Regions from separate parts of the Homo sapiens genome. Here region 1 is linked to region 2. Evidence: fine-mapped expression QTL. A gene starts in region 2. The other region holds a variant in brackets. All regions are shown on one strand. Distances are from middle to middle. Region 1 overlaps LOC124901947 (a long non-coding RNA gene). Region 2 holds the start of MRPL15 (mitochondrial ribosomal protein L15).

Region 1 (4,395 bases), 650 kb after region 2:
CCCTACCTCCCGTTGCTTCCCTTGGAAACCATAATAAAGGCTCTTGCCCACAGTGACCTCTTCCACCGCCTTCTCAGCGACCCTGGGGAGTCCCCATGTGGCCCTGTGGTGTGATGCACGTTCCCTCTCTTGGGATCTGTGAGTTTAATGCACAATCTTTTCAATGGTAGTTGTCCCCTGATCTGTTGGCTTCACCACACCTGAAAAAAATAATGAAACCTATCAAAATACAGGCTATGAGGCAGAGGATCTGATGCCTGCAAGATGAGAGACCCTGACAGTTTTTTCTAGCTCCTAGCCCTAAGCTTCTCCCCTGCATGATATTCTAGTGAGATATGGGGTGGAATGACAGAAAGAAATCCAGCTTGGGTTGTATGTATGTACCTTTGACATTGCATGGGAGCTCTTTGCCTACCTGTCTTGCTTGGGCATTTCCAGTCCTTCCTCTGGGCATTCTCAATAGCAGTGGAATTTTTAATTGGGAAAATGGGGATTACTTCATTGGGAAATGAAGTAATATGACATATTATTTAAAAAAAAGCCACATTACTTCATTTCCCAATTATAAATAGACCCTTCACCATGGATCTGCCATTTGCAACTTCCATGACATTGCAAGTGTTTGAGTTCAAATTCATTTTCTGCAAACCACGACCATGTTTGTCTGTTGCACAGCTGTATTCCCAGGCTTAGCATATCTGGCGCAGTTAGTGCAGGCTAGATATCAGTTAACTGAATGAATAAATAAACCACCCAACTACTAAATCAGGTTGTCTCAAACTCATCCAAAAGTTTATATGGGTTGAGTGTAACAAACTTCATGGGTTTCTGTGGTAGGCTGAATAATCATTCCTCCTAAAAGATATCCACATTCAAATTCCTGGAATCTGTGTGTATTACCTTATATGGCAGAAAGGGTCTTTGCAGATGTGATTAAGAATCTTGAGATGGGGAGATTATCCTAGATTATTTGGGGGACCCTAAATCCAATCACAAGCATCTGTGAGAGATGCAGAGGGAGATGACATGCACGGAGGCAAAGGAGGCAGCGTGAGCAGGAGCCAGAGATTGGAGTGTTGTGTCCACCACTATGGAAGCTTGACAAGGAATTTTTCTGCAGAGCCCCCAGAGGGAGTATGGTCCTGATGACATCTGGGTTTTGGGTTTCTGGCCTCAAAAACTATGAGAATAAATGTCTGTTGTTTTAAGCTCCTACCTGTGTCATAATTTGTTATATGTGACTCAGGAAACTGAAAGTTTCCGAGGGAAATTGATGGGTATTTCTCTCTGGAGAATTCTAAAAAGAGAGACTCCCTGGTCATGTCCTGTAGTGGCCGGATAGTAGAAACTAGATTTGGTGGTCTGTTGGTGTTCCTTTCCAATAATTCTTCTTGGATTCTTTGAGAAGTGTGATGACTTGGCTTCATTTTCTGTCCTCATGTAAGTGACTTAGGTAAGGTTAGATGAGAAGAAGAGCACAGGTGTGTTTAGGTCGACCTACACCCCCCAGATAATTAGGATACTTCAACTCCTGTTGTTCTTAGTCCATTCTTGTACTTGCCAGTCCATGTTACTTAGAAAAAAGCGAAGGGAGTCTTTGAGGTTTATGTTCTACCATTACACAGGGATTGCATTTCTTTCTCTATCGAGTTAGGACTGGAAAAGATACTTCAAGAGAATTTTTGAATTCAATAGGATGACCTTTGAAGGTAAAGAATATGTAAAGTGGATTTCTAATGAAATCTTATTCAATCCCGGTGAAGATATTAACATTTTGTTTTGTGTAGTATTTTCCTGCTTTATTTTTTGTCAGTTAATTTATTAAGAGGCCACTGACACTTTTTTCATTTTATTTTTTTAAATCTACCCAAACAAGGTGATCAGAAGCTTCTAAAATCTTAATAAACACCTGATTCTTAAATGTGAAATGAACTTAGAGAAAGGATATAGCATACATCATCTAATTATTTAGGTATGAAATGTTAGAATTTTGGGGGTTAGAGTCTCAGATATGTCCAAATCATGTCCTGTCCTTTCTTGTCTCCTAGGTAACTGCTAGAGCACATTTGAGATTTTTTTTCCTGAAAAATAAATGTCTTATATAAGAAGCTGGCAGTTAAGAAGGCGGAACATATATGTTTTTTTTTTCCATTTTAAACAATACAATTTGGCCATAGATTATATAGAACATAAAAATTGACAGAGAAATATAGCTTCAAGAGATATAATGTCAGTATGCAATATTTTAGTGAAAGTTACTAACATCATTTTGATTCATTGCATTTCTCTTAATATAAAATTTTATAGAGCCTGCTTTTCCACAACATCCCTGTTAGCAGGGATCTGTGTTGGTCTCATTGTAGACTTTAGTCTATATTCAGTGTCCAGGCTCTGTCCAGTATT[G/A]CAAAGGCAACATATCTAGCAAGGGTTCATCATCCTCTACCTAGAGAAGCTCTCACAGAGGGCAGTGAGTTTTCTCCTGATAACAAAGGCCAAAATGCCTTTTCTCTCTTAATGTAAGATTCATCTTTAATCCTGCGGCATACAAGCCACTTTTGTGCCCAGTCAGCCAGTGTCTGAAATGTCTCCAATCTGAATCCAGTTTACTTTTTTTCTTCTAGTTGGCTCCAGTGGGAGTTTGCAATTTCACTTGCTTTTTGTTTTACCTTTCTGGAGTTCCCTAGGGAAGTTAGTCTATACTATACAAACTTTAGTAGATGGCCAATACATGCATGTATCTTCTCTACCAATAATATTGATTTCTTTAATAACATTCCTACCAGTGTTATTGGTAGAAACATTATTAGTGGAAAGAATGATATCAATTGAGAGTGGCTCCTAGGCTTCTGGCTAAGAAGCCTGGTGAGTGGTTTTAGTATTTATTGGGGAAGATGGTGATTTAGTGTTTTTTTTTTCAATGGATTTGATTTTCTAGAGCAGTTTTAGGTTCATAGCAATATTGAGCATAAGATATGGAATTTTCCCGTATATCTCTAGTTTCTGCACATGCCTCACCTTCCCTCAACATACCCCACCAGACTAGTGCATTTGTTACGATCCATGAACTTACACTGACACATCACCATCACCCAAGGTTTATGGTTTATGTTAGGGTTCAGTCTTGATTTTGTACATGCTATGGATTTGGTTATGTTTATAATAACATGTGTCCACCCTTGTAGTATCATGCAGAGTAGTTTCACTGCTCTTAAAATCCTCTGGGATCCATCTATTCATTCCATGATTTAGGTTTTGATGTCTTGAGTTTGCCCACAGAGGACAAATGAAGGCTTGCAAATGGGTAAGGGCATCTAGGTATACAGTGTAAAATAAGAAGAGAAGATTGCCTGTCACTGCATCTTGAGGAGCAACCACAGGCGGCAAAGAGATGGACCAAGAAAGAGGCATCTACAGCACAGTGAGAGTGGCAAAAAGATAAGTGAAGCAATTCTTTTATTCATTCATTCATTCAACATATATTTTTGAGTCCCTACTATGTGCTAGAGACTACTATGTGTTAAGAGCTGAGTATTTGGAGAGTGGCATCACAGAAGCACAAAATAAAGAGTGTTTTTAAAACTAGAAAATGGTCAAGTGATGTGTTTTGGACATGAGGTCATTGGTGACTTTAGAAAGAGAAGTTTCAGTGGAGTGGTGAGAGTGGGAGCCAGATGGCAGAGGCTTGAGGATGGAGAGAGAGGTAAGCAAGGGTGACAGTGAATGTGAAGAGTTGTCAGGTTCACGACTATGCCAAATGTCATGTTGAGGTCTGAAGGGAGTGGGTGGATGAGCAGAAAGAACTCAAGGGCCCGTAGACAGGTGAAAGATGATTTTATTCAGCAGCAACTGTCATCAACAGCTTTCTCACACTGTCTGCCCTGTCTTGGTTGCTTGAGCCAGTGGCTCCCACATACAGCTGCGCAGCTGGCTCTCCCCTGCTTTCAGGGTCAGCAGCTTAACTCTTTCTCTCCCTGGGCATGAGTGAGCTGAGCTATGTTCTGGCTGCCCTTGGTCCATCTGCAAAGATGGACAGCTCTGACTCACTCTCTCTTTCTCTGGGTGCCAGCACCTATAGAGTGTCAACAGGGCAATTATACCTTTCACAGACAGTAGTGGCTTAGAGCCAGGTGATGAGCCTTTCTTATGTTATGGCTATGGTGGTGAGCTTCTCTATGTTAAGTCTACATGGCTGTGATAACAAGTGGAGTTGTACACCTGCGCTCTAAATTCATTGAGTCACTCTGGATGTTTACCTCGGCCTACCCTTGACCAAAGCACAGCCTTGTTCCTTACACTCCACCCCCTGGGCTGAGGGAGACGTAGGGCTTGATACACAGGTTATATGCATAAACTTTGGGTACATAGACTCAATATACACAGGCATGGGCTTTATAC
Region 2 (4,395 bases):
GGGAGGCCGAGGTGAGCAGATCACTTAAGGTCAGGAGTTCAAGATCAGCCTGGCCAACATAGTGAAACCCTGTCTCTACTAAAAACAAATAAAATTAGCTGGGCATGGTGGTGGGTGCCTGTAATCCCAGCTATTCAGGAGGCTGAGGCAGGAGAATCACTTGAACTTGTGAGGTGGAGGTTGCAGGAGCCGAGATTGCGCCACTGTACTCCAGCTCAGGCAACAGGGCAAGACTCTGTCTAAAAAAAAAATCCTCCTATATAACACCAAAAGATCTAATCAAGACTTACCTCCTCAACCAGCTGGACACCATAATCCCTTTTAAGTGGCTGGATGGTCACACCTCTCCCATTGACAAGCTGGGTTAAGTCAATAGGTTGACTAGGATCAACACGACCCAAATCAATAAGATACTGCAGTCTATTGAGACTCAAAGGCTTATACTGGCGTCTGAAACTGTAAAACAAGAATGTAAGAGTTGGAAAACTCTCATCTTCCTGTAACTTCTCGAAATCAACTCAAAGCTTTGTCTTGTGTTTTCCTCCACCAATTTTATTTAACTAAACAAAACCCTCTTGAGTGTAACACAAACATGTAATACTGCTTGATTTTGGGTAATGAAAACAAACCTGTACCACCTTTGTTCCACTAAAAATTATTTCCCTCTCTAAGCATTTACTTCACTTATTTACACAAATAAATCTGTGGAAAATTTAACTTACTATGGAGCTCAAAGTAATAATGGTAGTTATCATTTATTAGGTGACTACAGTGGGCCAGATTTTTATGTATACTGTCTATTATTGCTCACTCTTTTAATAACCATTAGAGCTGGCATTAGAATCTCCATTTTGCAGGTCTAAGTGCAGTGTCTGGGCCTCTTTTCCTTTTAATAATCCAGGCAAGATTTCATTACCAAAAAATGGTTCAGGGGAACAGTAGCAAAAGTTTGCTTCAAAGTGAATTTACAATTTCCACCAAAATTTCTACCAAACTATTTTTAGGTGCTTTTTAATGGAAATTGGGGACCTGTACTTTAAAAAGCAAAGCAACCTTACCTATGTCCTTCGTTAAACCCGTATTTTGGGATTCGGATGTAAAATGGAGTCTGGCCTCCCTCAAAGCCCAAGCGGGGCCGGGTTCCTCTTTGCCTTTCTCCTTTATGGCCTCTGCCACATTTTCTACCTCTTCTCCGACCTCTTGGTCTTCTCTCCTGCAAGGAAAAAAAAGAATTTTATGAATTTCAGATGCATTTCTAAAAACTGCATTTCAGCTCTTCACTTTTTGTTATGCTGTTCATTCATCCAGCCCACCAGTGCTAGCTAACACTATTGTGTCAAGCATGTCCTAGTTGCTCAAAGCTCCACACACTCTGTTAGCATCTTTGCCTCTAAAGACATAGCTAATTCTTGTAACCAAAGTCCAAGTGTGTTTCAAAAGCAAAAAGTAAAGGTTAGGATGGGGATAAGGTTTTTATAATAGGTTGAAACCGAAAAAAATCCTAGAATTAAATATTCACAACATTTTAAATGATAGGCAAGAATTTATTCTGAAATTAATTGTAAATATGCAAATGTTATTCATAAACCTGTAATTTTATTTGAAAACTGATCTGTTGAAGAAAATCTTTTCCTTAATTTCCTGTCATTTCACGAAAGCAATGAACTGACTGTTAAAATGACAGTACATTGTCAACTAACAGCTTTTCTAGCTCTATTTAGTCAACTGCAGAAGGGACAGCTGCAATTCAGATCTTTCCAATGAACATAAAGATACACCGGGAAAACATTTCATTTTAAATCCAATTTTGAATGACACAAAGACTTTGTAGTTTCAGCGAGTCGGCTTCTCCGCCTGGTATCTTTACACTTGTAAACATAACCTTATTAAGAACTGGGTGCGGCCGGGGGCGGTGGCTCACGCCTGTAATCCCAGCACTTTGGGAGGCCGAGGCAGGCGGATCGCGAGCTCAGGAGTTCAAAACCAGCCTGGCCAACACGGTGAAACCACGTCTCTACTAAAAATACAAAAATTAGCCGGGCGTGATGGCGGGCGCCTGTAATCCCAGCTAATCGGGAGGCTGAGGCAGGAGAATTGCTTCTGGGCGACAGAGCAAGCCTCCGTCTCGGAAAAAAAAAAAAAAAAAAAAAAAAGAACTGGGTGCACGTGGAAAGATTCCCCTCTGGGCAGTAAGGGAGAACAGGCATGAGGCAATCCTATTTTCATCCCAACACTCTCCTAGAAAGGGCAGTTCTCCTAATGACAGGGAGAGAAGGGCCGCTTTCATCGCCCGGGTCCCCAGCGCTTCCCCGCACCGCCACCACCCATTTACCGGTTTCTTGGAGCCGGGATTCGGCTTTAAGTTGGCCAGGCTCACACGCGGCAGGCCCCGGAGTAGGTCCAGGGCCCGGGCCCCACCGCCCTGCAAGGGACCGGCCATAACCCGCAGATCCAAGAACTTTCAAGGGCGCCCTGAGCTGCTCGGAGGCCACGTGGTCTCGGGGGCTGCTTTGTGGCCGTGGCCCCGCCCCTGTCGCGCTGCAGCCGCGCGCGCAAGCCCGGGAGTCGGGCAGAGGCGTGGGAGTCTGCAACCTTGTCTCGGTTGTCCTTTTAGTTGTTTGGGGATGTGATCTTATTTTCCGAGATCCTGCTTTGTCCTCGGGGTCCCTTTTAATATTCTGAACGTAAAACCTTCTCTTTCGCCAAACGAGAGCATGCACTAAAAACACTGCGTTAAATAAAGGATCTTTTTTGAGTCAGTGTTGGGCCTTGCCTGTTTGTCTAGGCCGTGTCTTCTCTGAGGTCAATGCAGAACCCAGAGTAAAGCAAAGTGAGCTGTCAATTATTAGCTTTTGAGCTTGCGTAATTATACACCGTGAGGTACGAAAATAAAACTGAGTGCACCTATCAAAATGCCTGGCTAATAACCAATCTTTGAATAAGACTCAAAGTGTGAACTCTCATCCGTGTGCATCTGTATTGTTTTGAGTGAATCGCAGTTAGTAACCACCTATTGTTAATGACTGGCGCCATACTGAATGCCTGGTGTATGCCAGACGCTGTATTAAATAAGCCTTACTCGATTTACAGCCATTCTAGAGGTAAATGGTGTTACTACATTTTACAGTTACAACAGGGAAGGCTTAGCAAGGTCCGATAGCTTGACCAACTTCTTGCAACAAGCGGCAGAGCCAGGATTCAAACGTACACTGCTTCCTACTATAAAAGTAGTATTTTTAGAATGTAAAATTGAGTATCTGCATCACAAAATACGAACATTATTACTCGAAAAATACCAGCTCTTCTTTTTTCTCTCAAGTGACTTAAATATAGAAAAGACTGTTCCTTTCTTTTTCTTTCTTTTAGTAGTGGTTTGACATTTCACTTGCTGGGGAGTTTTTTCTGCTAGCTCTAACTAGTAATCACAAATAATGAAGGTGAGACAATTTTTGGAGGGCGTCTGTCTCTAGGTATAACTGCGTCTTTTTAAAGTTCCTTTAAATCAAGTGTAAAATAACTACATAAAGAAAAAGTTGTATTCATTCCTTCAAGTACTATTTATAAGTAAGACACTGAACTTGTTGGAAATACACATGGATGAACTCAAATAGGATTTCATTCCCAAGTTGTTTGAAATCTAGTAGGGAACAGTTTCCAAAAGTGAATTATTATTATTATTATTTTGAGACAGAGTCTCGCTCTGTTGCTTAGGCTAGAGTGCAATGGTTCAATCTCAGCTCACTGCAACCTCTGCCTCTCTGGTTCAAGCAATTCTTCCGCCTCCGCCTCCTGAGTAGCTGGGATTACAGGCGTTCACCAGCACGCCCCGCTAATTTTTTTTTGTATGTTTAGTAGAGACGGGTTTTCGCCATGTTGGCCAGGCTGGTCTCCAACTCCTGGCCTCAGGTGATCCCCCTGCCTCGGCCTCCCAAAGTGCTGGGATTACAGGCGTGAGCCACGGCGCCTGGCCCGTGAATGTTTTTTAAAAGTTAAAGATAAAAGTAGGCCTCTTGTAGACTAATTAGCAAAAACAAAATATGTGAGTTCGATAAAATGATATGATGGTAAAGTCTAGACTCTATTTAGAAGCACAGAAGAAATAGAATGGGGTGTGGGGGGCAATAGAACCTATTTTCTGCCTTTAATGATTTTTGGTTTGTTTGTTTGAAATGGAATCTCACTCTGTCGCCCAGGCTGGAGTGCAGTAGCGCCATCTCGGCTCACTGCAGGCTCCTCACCCAGGTTCAAGCGATTCTCCTGCCTCAGCCTCCCCAGTAGCTGAGATTACAGGCATGCACCACAACGTACAGCTTTTTTAGTTTGTTTGTTTGGTTGGTTTTTTAGTAGAGACTGGGTTTCACCACGTTGGCCAGGCTTGTCTGAAACTCCTAACCT

Evidence for each region. PIP is the estimated chance that this variant, and not a neighbour inherited with it, causes the effect.
Region 1: its variant is the best candidate, but not a certain one, in a credible set for the expression of MRPL15 in whole blood (INTERVAL, PIP 0.82).

What each region holds. Positions count from the first base shown.
Region 1 is chr8:53,488,198-53,492,592 of GRCh38, reverse strand. All of the region lies in intron 1 of LOC124901947 (a long non-coding RNA gene), which reads right to left. Among named protein-coding and RNA genes, the nearest start is that of LINC02984, 34 kb to the left of the region's middle. The variant G/A (reference allele first, on the strand shown) is at 2,404.
Region 2 is chr8:54,133,329-54,137,723 of GRCh38, reverse strand. It overlaps MRPL15 (mitochondrial ribosomal protein L15), which reads right to left and starts at 2,483. Exons shown (of 5, transcript NM_014175.4): 1 at 2,333-2,483; 2 at 1,059-1,213; 3 at 291-456. The coding sequence starts at 2,440.